3 linked regions of the Homo sapiens genome follow. The protein of the gene in region 3 interacts with the protein of the main gene of each other region in a pairwise test. Each region holds a gene or a part of one and is shown on either strand. Other genes may lie near its edges. The genes, in order: NCK1, NCK2 and CHN2.

Region 1 (3,653 bases), on a different chromosome or scaffold from region 3:
AGGTTTTTCACAATAGATGCTTTCCGAGCACTGTTTTTCCTTTCCACATAGTTAGAAGGCACAAAACCTGTTTTATTCATGGAATTTCGAACTCGCCACCAGGACTTAGAATCATCCAGAAGCCATAATCTCTCATTCTTCTTGATGTCCAACTCTTGTTCTTGTTGGGCCACATAATCAAATTTGGCTACTACCACCACTTCTTCTGCCATCTTTCAGCAGCTTCAGCACTGTAAACACATGGAAAATATTTTTATGTAAGGTTGAGGTAGTATTAGTTCACATGCTTTTCAAAAGAGACACACCTAAAAATCTAAAGACATAAAGATGAAAAGTAAAAAATATGGAAAAAAATACATGAGGCAAATAGTAATTTAAAGAGACTGTGACTGTATGGCCGTGCGCAGTGGCTCATGCCTGTAATCCCAGCACTTTGGGAGGCCAAGGCAGGCAGATCACTTGAGGTTGAGTTCGAGACCAGCTTGGCCAACATGGTGAAACCCCATCTGTACTAAAATACAAAAATTAGCTGGGCGTGATGGTGCACACCCGTAGTCCCAGCTACTCAGGAGGCTGAGGCATGGGAATAGCTTGAACCTGGGAGGCGAAGGTTGCAGTGAGCCGATATCGCACCACTGCACTCCAGCCTGGCGACAGAGGGAGAATCTGTCTCAATCAATCAATCAACCAATCAATAAAGAGACTGGTGTTGCTCTATTAGTATCAAACAAAACTTAAAGGGCAAAAACCATTACTAGCAATAAAGTTCACTACCCAATGAAAAATGTTCTACTCAATTACAATATCTAAACTTCTATGTACCTAGTAACAAGATAGTTTCAAAATATGTTGACAGAACCACAAGGAGATCTTGACAAACCCATTACCACAGAGGACAATTTTTAACATATTATCAGAGTAACAAAACAAAGAAATAAAAACGGCCAGGCCTGGTGGCACACACCTGTAATCCCAGCACTTCGGGAGGCCGAGGCTGGTGGATCACCTGAGGTCAGGAATGCAAGACCAGCCTGGCCAACATGGTGAAACCCCATCTCTACTAAAAATACAAAAATTAGCTAGGTATGGTGGCGCACACTTGGAATCCCAGCTACTCAGGAGGCTGAGGCAGGAGAATCCCTTGAACCTGGGAGGCGGAGGTTGCAGTTAGCCAAGATCGTGCCACTGCACTCCAGGCCTGGGTGACACAGCCAGACTTGGTCTCAAAAAAATAAATAAATAAATACAAACATTATTAAGGCTAGAGAAGAACTCATATCACAACCAGCAAGTCTGATTTAATAGACATATACAGAATATTGCTTCCAAATAGAAAACAAATGAAACACATACAAAAAGCAATCAAATGCCAGGCCATAAAGAATGTCTCAATGTTCACGTAACTGATATCCTACAACCATATTCTCCAACAACCATAACAAAAAGATAACTTTTGAAATACCACGTTTGGAAACTTCTAAAAACTAATGAATCTAAGAAGAAATCATATTGAATTTTGAAAATACTTAGAAGTAAATAATTTTAAAAACTATACATCGAACTCTGTGGGATGTAGCAAGAGGAGTGTATATAGACAGATTTTTAGTTTTAAATAGTAACATTAAAAAACAAAAAGAGTGGCCGGGCGCGGTGGCTCATGCCTGTAATCCCAGCACTTCAGGAGGCTGAGGCGGGTGAATCACAAGTTCAGGAGATCGAGACCATCCTGGCTAACACGGTAAAACCCTGTCTCTACTAAAAATACAAAAAAATTAGACAGGCGTGGTGGCGGGTGCCTGTAGTCCCAGCTACTTGGGACGCTGAGGCAGGAGAATGGCTTGAACCCGGGAGGCGGGGCTTGCAGTGAGCCGAGATCGCGCCACTGCACTCCAGCCTGGGCCGCAGAGCGAGACTCTGTATCAAAAAATAATAATAATAATAATAATAAAATTTAAAATAAAATTTTAAAAAGAGCTAAAAATAAATTAATGAACTGAGTATCTATCTTAAGCAGTTAGAAAAGTTAAAGAAACATTAGAAAAACAAATCCAACTAGAAAATGAGCAAAAAAACATGAAGAGGCATTCACTGAAGATTTACAGATGGCAAATAAGCAGATGAAAAGGTATTCATCATTAGCTATTAAAGAAATGCAAATTAAAACCACACTGAGATGTCACTACATACGCTTGTCAGAATGGCTAAGAGTGGTAATACCAAATGCTGACAAGGGTAAGTTGAAATTGGATCACACGTATACTGCTGATGAGAATGTAAAATGGTACAGATACTCCGCAAAATTGTCTGACAGTTTCTCATAAAACTAAACATGCAACTACCATACAAGCTAGCAACTGCACCCCTGGGTATTTATCCCAGAGAAATGAAAATTTATGTTCACATTTTACATGAATGTTAACAGCAACTTTATTTCTAACAGTCAAAAACCGGAAACCACCCAGATGTCCTTCAACAGGCAAATAATTAAACAAACTGGTACGTTCATACCAAAAAGAACAATTGATGCACAAAACGACCTGGATGAATCTCCAGGGAATTATAACTGCTCAGTGAAAAAAGCCAATCTCAAAGGTTAACTATATGACTCCATTTATATAACACTCTCAAAATGACAAAATATGGAAATTAGAAACAGATTAGTAGTTGCCAGGGTTAACGGGGCAGCAGGAACAGGAGGGAAGTAAGTATGACTATAAAAGGGCAATATGAAGAAATTTTGTAATATTATTGTGATATTGTACTATACTTCTGCCAGATGTATTGCCACTGGAGGAAAGCATACACTGGATCTCGCAATAAGTTCTAAAGTTTCTCAGAATTGCATGTGGATCTATAATGATCTCAAAATAAAAAGTTTAATTAAAATAAAAACTGAAAGAGAAAACACAAATAGTCAAAAAGTATTCAAAAGATCCTGAATATCTTTATAATTAAAGAAATGAAAACTAAACTGAAATACCACACTTTACCTATCAGGGTGACAAAAGTATTACCAATATTATCTAGTCCTCCCCAGAATGTACAAAAATAGCATTCTACTACATTACTGGTATAATAACTAAAAATTTATATAATGCTTTTAAGTTTTATAATTATGGCACTTTTCAACATTTACAGAAGAGAATAGTATAATGAATCCTATACCTATCACCCAATTTTATCAATATTATGCCTTGTGGTTCAGCTATCCCCCTAATTTTTGGTGGGGGAACTGGAATCCCATGATTTCATTAAGCACTAACAGATTAAAAACCCATACCCCTCAAAAATGAACAAATCAAGGGCTCCTGACCTTTTCCCTTTTTTAACCCATATATGCCGGAGGTTGCAATTTCTTGTGTGAAAAATCAGACCTTGGTGACGACCTTGAGCATGATATAAATAACTCTCACAAGCTTAGCGTTCCAATAATGGAACACTAGGCACAAATGGGTTAAGCCATGGACCTCCCCTCCTCCTGCCTAATGGCAGTGTGGTGAAACATAGAACCTCTACTCACAATGTTTCTGATGCATAAAAATATATAAGATTGCAAACAAGTCAATTATACTAAAATTAAATTATCAGTATATTTTCAAAAGCTCATTTTGAAAAGGTGTTCCTTTATTAAGAACTCCTGCAACACTTATTTC
Region 2 (3,653 bases), on a different chromosome or scaffold from region 3:
CCTCAATTAAAGGCCCAGGCCCAAAGACTGCAAGAAAAAAAGGAAATTAAATAAAGATGCCTGACTGAGTCCTGCAGGGAGGCTGAACCCCTCAGAAACCTTTCCATCCTGGCATGCTGCGAAGGAATTATGTCAGATCATGAACCTAAGGGCTCTTGGTGGCCTAGTGGTGGCTGCGAAAGCCAGCTCTAACCTGAGAAATGCCAAAATGAGCAGGAAAACACATGGGGACGGGGGGAGGCAGTGGATGGTGGGAAAAAAACAAGCAAAGGACTTGTCCACTTGTCCACCAGGACAGGTCCCTGGTAGTCACAGATGACAGCTGAGAACGCCTTGGTTATGAACAGGAAATACAGCAAACCTGGCATGGTTCTGCTGTCAGGAGAAAAGAAGCCACACACACACCTCAGGGCTCTTGCAGAATCCCCATGGAACAAGGCATGCACACTAACAGCTGAAAATGGCCCGTGTCACGGCAAGATCCATCAGGACAAGCTGCCCTGCACAGCATCAGGCCACGTGGAACCTCAGACAAAGACGGTGCTGCTATGTGTGCAGAGCCGATGCAAGTCCCAGTAAAGCTCTTTCCGCCCTATATTCCTAGAATCATATATGTTGTTCCTTGACTTTCTAAGTTAGGAGAGAATGCAAAAAACCCTGAAAGGCCCCCATTAAAAAACTGTTAAAAGGAAATACAAACAATTCGTGCTTTAGTTCTTTAGAAAAAGTTAGCTCATTCTCTAACAATATAAGACAACTGAGACAGTGGGGTGCAGAGTTCTGAGATGAAACCCAGACAATGCATGCATCCCTCCTTATCCAAAGGGACTTGGTCCCTGAATTCAGACAGCAATGACCACCTGTGCATGTTCCACAGAAAAGCCATAGGTCCTCCCTAAGGCCAGCAACCCCGGAGAACACCTTTTTCATCTACCCTCTAAAGTCTTTCCTCTTTTCCCCAAATCTTAGGCAGAAAGAATAATGACTGGGACCAATGTCTCCACACTGCAGGACTTCCTTCTGAGAAGTCTCCTCAAACTCAAAAAATTTTAAGCCAAGATCATATTTTGTGCATTATACTTAGCCCTTAAGGACTCTGGACCAAGCACTTAATATTGTAATTGGTTTTCCAGCGCTTTCTCTAAGTTTCTGCTCGATTGAGTTAAAAGCGCTGCTGTCCTTAATTTGCTTAAGGCTTCAAACACGATCTAAAAGAAGTGGTGCACAGAGCTCTCGTCATGTGAGAACAATTCAATGTGATGTCTTGCCAGGAATGATAAACTCTGGTGACTTGATAAATCTCAGAGTTCAGATTTCAGATGAAGTTAGCTTTCAGCCTGGCATTCCCGTCCAAGCACATGTAAGGCTCCGCAAAATTGATGACACCATAAAGGAGTCCAGTTTCCACCACCACGATGCTCCGTCCTCAAAGAGAGCACATCCCAGTCGCCTCTCTCTGGAGGGCTTTGAATGCCTCTCTGATCAGTCAACAGGACCCTTGAATGAGCACTTATTCATTGTGCCAGTAATCTTTTCAGAGGACAGCAGTGGCAGCAGGTAGTACATACTTACTAGTCTTATAGCGTGCATTTAAAAATGAAATTGAAGCCTCCTAGAACCAATACAATTCAAATACATTAAACTCTATCTCCTAAATGCTTGTTTTGGAAGTCTCTCGATTGTAGAAGGTGTATTCGGAAAGACGTTTGCAAAACTGGTCGAGTATTTCCTTCACACACGAAAAGCCTGCCTTCTGGGATGCAGGCTTGACCCCATGCCTGAAACTCACCGCCCCCAGCCTGCCCACCGCTGAACTGGGTCTGCTGCCCCAGTCGAGTGGCCTCATATCTCCGACTCACTGCACACAAACAAAACTCATCTCTCCCAAGAACCCCTGTTTTCTTTTCAATTTATCTCGTAAGTGCTTTAAAAGCTTTTGAGAGATGAACTCAGTGGCGCTGCCTGCCGTGGCAATGACCTTGGGATTATATGGTTTACAAAGAGAAAGCAAGCAAACAACAAAAGGAGGTGTCAGAAACCAGCCACCAGTCTTGCAAAGAATGCTTTCTCTGGGACACAGACCGAATAGAAACAAAGTAAATCACTCGGGCCTTCTACGTACACAGAATGGGCAACCAGGAGAGAAAATGATGTTTGAGCCTGTGAAATACAAGAGGGGGAATCTTGGGAGAGAAGCAGAACCACCTCTGTGAGCTAAAAACATCTTTTTAGTTAATCTCCCACCTCCAGAAATGGACACCCACTATCCCCAAAACAGATGCAAGTAAATCACGGAGTAGCAAACATTATACTAAATTGCATTCATCTGCGTCTCCCGCTCTTTCTAGTGTACTCACACAATGTGAAAAGGGCGCGGCACACAGACCCACCGCGCAAGGCGCATTTACTGCCTGCAGCCGGAGCTGTGGGCGCAGCGCACTTACCGAGGACTCGCTGTCCCTAATGAGGAAGTCGCCCTCCACGCCCCGCTCGTTGAGGGCGCACTCGGCCTGGTGCCGCGTCACGTTCCCGTAGTACCACTCTCTGCCCGCGAAGCGCCCGCTGGACGAGGGCCCGGTGTAGCTTATCTGTGGGGCGTGCGCAGGGTGCAGGGCAGGCCCGTCACTGAGGACCACCACGTAGTTTTTGGGGACGAGGCCCACCTGGCCCCGGGCATTTTTGCATTTCCACCACTCGGGGTCGTTCTCCGGCTTCTCAATCACCTCCATGGTCTCCCCCTTCTCGAAGTTGAGCTCCTCCTCGGTGACTGAGCTGAAGGGGTACAGCGTCTGGACCACATGCAGCACGCGGGAGCCCTGGCCATTGCTCAGCGAGGCGCCCTTGCGCAGGCTCAGGAAGCTTGGGGACTCCGCAGCCGCCTCGTCCACCTCCTCCAAGACGTAGTTGGAGGGGAACCAGCCGATCTGCCCGTTGTAGCTGCCCCGCCACCAACCGTCGCTGCACTTCTCCATGACGGTGACGCGCGACCCCTTCACCAGGGACAACTCATCCTCCCGCTCGGCCACATAGGCGAACTTGACGAAGGCCGGGATGTTGAGGTCGTAGATGCGGTCGGCGCCGCTGCCATTGGCGGGGTACTCGGCGTCCGTGCTGGGCGTGGGGGACGCATCCCGCGCGCTGGTCTTCCTGCGCGTCTTGCCGAGGCCTGTGGAGACACAGCAAGGCTCAGTGGCGCAGGGCACTTGGGCACCACCACACTCCCTAGCCTACCGGGATTTCCACGCAGTTTCTCTGGCGGTTAAATACAAGGGGACGACACATGGACAGTGCTTACAAACTGTAATTACCATGAGAAAAATACGGTTGCTGGCAGCTGCCTCCTGTAGTTGCGAAGTTACTTAAAGTTGAGAATTAAATTGATCTATTTTATCCATAAAAACATGTCACAGGGCCAGCACAGTGGCTCACGCCTGGAATCCCAGCCTTTGAGAGGCCCAGGCGGGAAGATTGCTTGAGGCCAGGAGTCTGAGACCAGCCTAAGCAACATAGCGAGACCGTGTCTGCAAAAAAAAAAAAAAAAAAAAAAAAAAAAAAAATTAGCCACCTGTGGTGCACATCTGTGGCCCCAGCTACTGGAGAGGCTGAGGTGGGAGGATGGCTTGAGCCAGAGTTGAGACTGCAGTGAGCCATGA
Region 3 (3,653 bases):
AGGATTTGCTGTGATTCTATTTCTAATCTTAATCTGATATTAATTATTTCAGGAGAGTTTACAAAGCTTCTGTCAATTGCTTTTTCCACTGAAGAATTCATATTCCGAAAAAAGGCATGTGGATTAGTTTGGCTGCTTAAAGCAAGCATAGGACTCGGGCTCTCCTGAGACCAAAGTTCAACCCTAGGGCATATTAACATCACAGAGAACAAAAACTTCTGTGCCCTGGTCACCGGGAGTACCTTCAACCCTAGGCATTGATCATGAGGCAGATCCAGAGAGGATATTTGGCTAGAGCTAACCAGGACCCCAACCAGAAATTAACAACTCAAAGGGTACCTACTGAAAGAGAATAGTGCTCTCTGTGTATATGAAAATCAGCAAAAATAGTATTATTTACCAAATAAGTATGGTTTACTGGATCTCACTGTCTCTGAGGACAAGCACTGTAAAACAAAATGGTTATTTTTTTGTAATAAAGAGAATTTGAATGAGCAACTTAAATCAATATTAGGCAGCCAAATTATGTGTATTAATATCTACATATCATTAGCATAATCCCAAGTGAATTATTTCATTACTAAAAGTAATGCTAGAACTGACTTTTCATTTCCCTTGATATTAACTTATATACGATATAAATTTGACTGGAAATAATTGGAACCTAATCCACTTCCACTTTCTGTGTATACATATATACACACACATACAGAAATACAGATATGTGTGGATGTGTATGTAAACCCACATACTTATCCATGGCAGGACATCACGGTACAAAGGCTATGAGGCAAGAGTTTTCTACACACACACACACACACACACACACACACACACACACACACACACACAGAGAGAGAGAAAAACGTGTGCTTTGTTTCCTCAGCTTCTCTTTCCAACTTCATAGCATTGCAGGCTTTCTTTGGAAGGAGGCGTATACATAAATCTAACAAAAATACATGAAGTCTAGAATTAAACTGAAGCCCAAACAAAACAAAACACAAAATCTGTCTAAACAAGAATGTGACAAATGTCCCAACCTGTTCCTCTTTATAGAACTTCACTTGAAAGTCACTATAAAGATTCAGAAAAATTAAGGACATCTCTCAATGTCTGGGACTAAAACCAAACAGGGACCTGAGAATCAGGGCTGAGTTGCCTTGGTAAGTTTCTGCCTTGGTGAATGGAGGATAAGTAGACAGGGCTACAGGAGCCACTGAGCAGTGCATCAGCAGGTTTTGTATGGCAGATTCTGCGATCAAGGTTAGAACATTCTCACTGGAGTCATCCAGACCACAGCTGTCCAATACAAATATAATGTAAGCCACGCATGTAACTTCAAATATTCTAGTAGTTACCTTAAACACATTTTTAAAAAACAGGTAAAATTAATTTTGTAAATATATTATATTTAGCTTAATAGATCCTTTTTTTTTTTTTTTTTTTTTTTTTGAGACGGAGTTTCACTCATGTTGCCCAGGCTGGAATGCAATGGCGCAATCTCTGCTCACTACAACCTCTTTCTCCCGGATTCAAGCGATTCTTGTGCCTCAGCCTCCTGAATAGCTGGGATTACAGGTATGCGCCACCATGCCCAGCTACTTTTTGTATTTTTAGTAGAGACCAGGTTTCACCATGATGGTCAGGCTGATCTCAAACTCCTGACCTCAGGTGATCCACCCGCCTTGGCCTCCCAAAGTGCTGGGATTACAGGCGTGAGCCACCGTGCCAGGCCTAGATCCAAAATATTATCACCTAAACATATATTCAATATTTCAAAGGTTATGAGTCAGATATTTTATATTTTTTGGCTTTGTACTAAGCGTTTGAACTCTAGTGTGAATTTTACACTTGTAGCACATCTCAATTCAGACTAGCCATGTTTCAACGGCTCAGTAACCACATGTGGCTGTCACACTGGACTGTGCAGGTCTAGGTCTTGAGAATCAGGCCCTTAGAGGTCAATGGCACACCCCAGCCTCTGACACATGCTGCAGGAGATCTACTGCAACAGCCACGCTCCCTGCTTCCCATTTCTTTGCTGTCCCAACAGTCTCTTGGGCTTATTTCATGGAAGCAACATCATGTAAGAAAAAGCATTTCACATTGCTAATATGGCATTATGTGAAGTAATAAGGAAGCGCTAGGTTTCACTTCCTTGAAAAGGACAATACCCAGCCAGTACTGAGGGTGCAGAGGGCAATGATGGGGCCCGATAAAATCCAGGAACTGGGCCTCCGATGAGAAAAGAATTGCATAAGGTTATCACCCAAGTGCTTCTGTGATTCATATTGCCCTAAATCAATGATCTAAGTTATGTCAATAAATAATAAGCCACCATGTCACAGTCTTTTGGTTATTATAGTTTCTGAATCCAATGGCCTCAACATTCACCTCTTTCTTGACAGTTAACTTGACACTTTAAAGACACCTTCCACCTTCCCATTTTGTTGCACTTGAGGATGGTAACAGAAGTTCAAGGAGAACTGTTTCCTTTTCTTAGAAACTGTCATATTCCTGCATCTTATTTGCATGCATTTCCCCCCAATTAAATGTGCTGAAAATTCCAAAAGCTAACTTTATTTTCTAAAAACCAATGCATTTGCTTTGCCCTGATGTGGGCTTTTTGTAGAAGTAAAAATCCTTCTAGCTAGCTGCTGATGGCCAGGTTGGTAGAAAATCTCTTTTAAATAACACGGCTTGTATATGCCACTAGCAACCTCAGTCCACACATTCACAGTTTTCCTTACGATGTCTTTAAAGGAGATTCAATGGTAAGATCCAAACTTTTTGAACATGGGCACTTTTTCCTCTTTGAGGGTGAAATCAGAACTCACTGTGGGTTTATTTGAAAAAGAAATTGAGTTGCCATTAGGGAAACAACAAACCACTTTTTAAATAAAGCTTGAATCATACCTCAGGACTACAGAGTTTATAAACATTTTCAATTACCCTCCCCAATATCATCCTCCAGCTGTCATTCCACAGTTTCCCTCGGGGTCATAAAGAAATTACTTTTTTAAAAAGTCAATTTGCAAAATTAGTAAAAGATAACCTAAACAGCACAAGCAGCACACACAGCAATGGGAGCGCTCTGGATCAGATTTTCTCTTTTTAGCTTGTTGATTTTACATTAGTTTTGTCTCTGTCTTAGAGAATTTCCTGTAAAAAATGATAAAAATGTTTTGTGTCTGTGTAGTCCAATATGGTAGCCACTGGCCATGTGTGCTATTGAGCACTAGAAAGATGCCTAGGGTAACTGAGGAACTGAATATTTTTACACTTAAATTTAAATAGCCACATGTGACTAATGGTTACCATACTGGACAACACAGCTATACACAGGGCAGACCTAAGCCACTTAAATCTTTGTGCCTTTATGGGTACAACAGCCTGGAGATCTGAGGCCCATTTAAAATATAAAGCGCTTTATGACTTCTTTTTTGAAAGTATTAAGTAATTAAATAGAGCAGCCTCTATGAGGCCAGAGAGAAAAAAAAAAAAGTCTACAAGAAATTCTCTAAGGATGATGCTACTCTTTAGGATGAGCCAGGAAGTGGGTGGGGGGAGCATTAATGTCACAGGAGCTTGGGTCCTAGATGACAGTTCCAGCTCTAGCTCTGCTGTCAAGTAACTGAGTGGCATGAGACAGT

Evidence for each region.
Region 1: the proteins of CHN2 (region 3) and NCK1 interact in binary tests that used the Homo sapiens proteins (3 or more experiments, as listed by UniProt).
Region 2: the proteins of CHN2 (region 3) and NCK2 interact in binary tests that used the Homo sapiens proteins (3 or more experiments, as listed by UniProt).

What each region holds. Positions count from the first base shown.
Region 1 is NC_000003.12:136,924,561-136,928,213, reverse strand, and holds part of NCK1 (SH2/SH3 adapter protein NCK1), read right to left. Parts: intron 231-3,653; 5' UTR 213-230; coding exon 1-212. UniProt on the Homo sapiens protein: Adapter protein which associates with tyrosine-phosphorylated growth factor receptors, such as KDR and PDGFRB, or their cellular substrates. Maintains low levels of EIF2S1 phosphorylation by promoting its dephosphorylation by PP1.
Region 2 is NC_000002.12:105,880,841-105,884,493, reverse strand, and holds part of NCK2 (cytoplasmic protein NCK2), read right to left. Parts: intron 3,167-3,653; coding exon 2,445-3,166; intron 1-2,444. UniProt on the Homo sapiens protein: Adapter protein which associates with tyrosine-phosphorylated growth factor receptors or their cellular substrates. Maintains low levels of EIF2S1 phosphorylation by promoting its dephosphorylation by PP1.
Region 3 is NC_000007.14:29,201,267-29,204,919, reverse strand, and holds part of CHN2 (beta-chimaerin), read right to left. Parts: intron 1-3,653.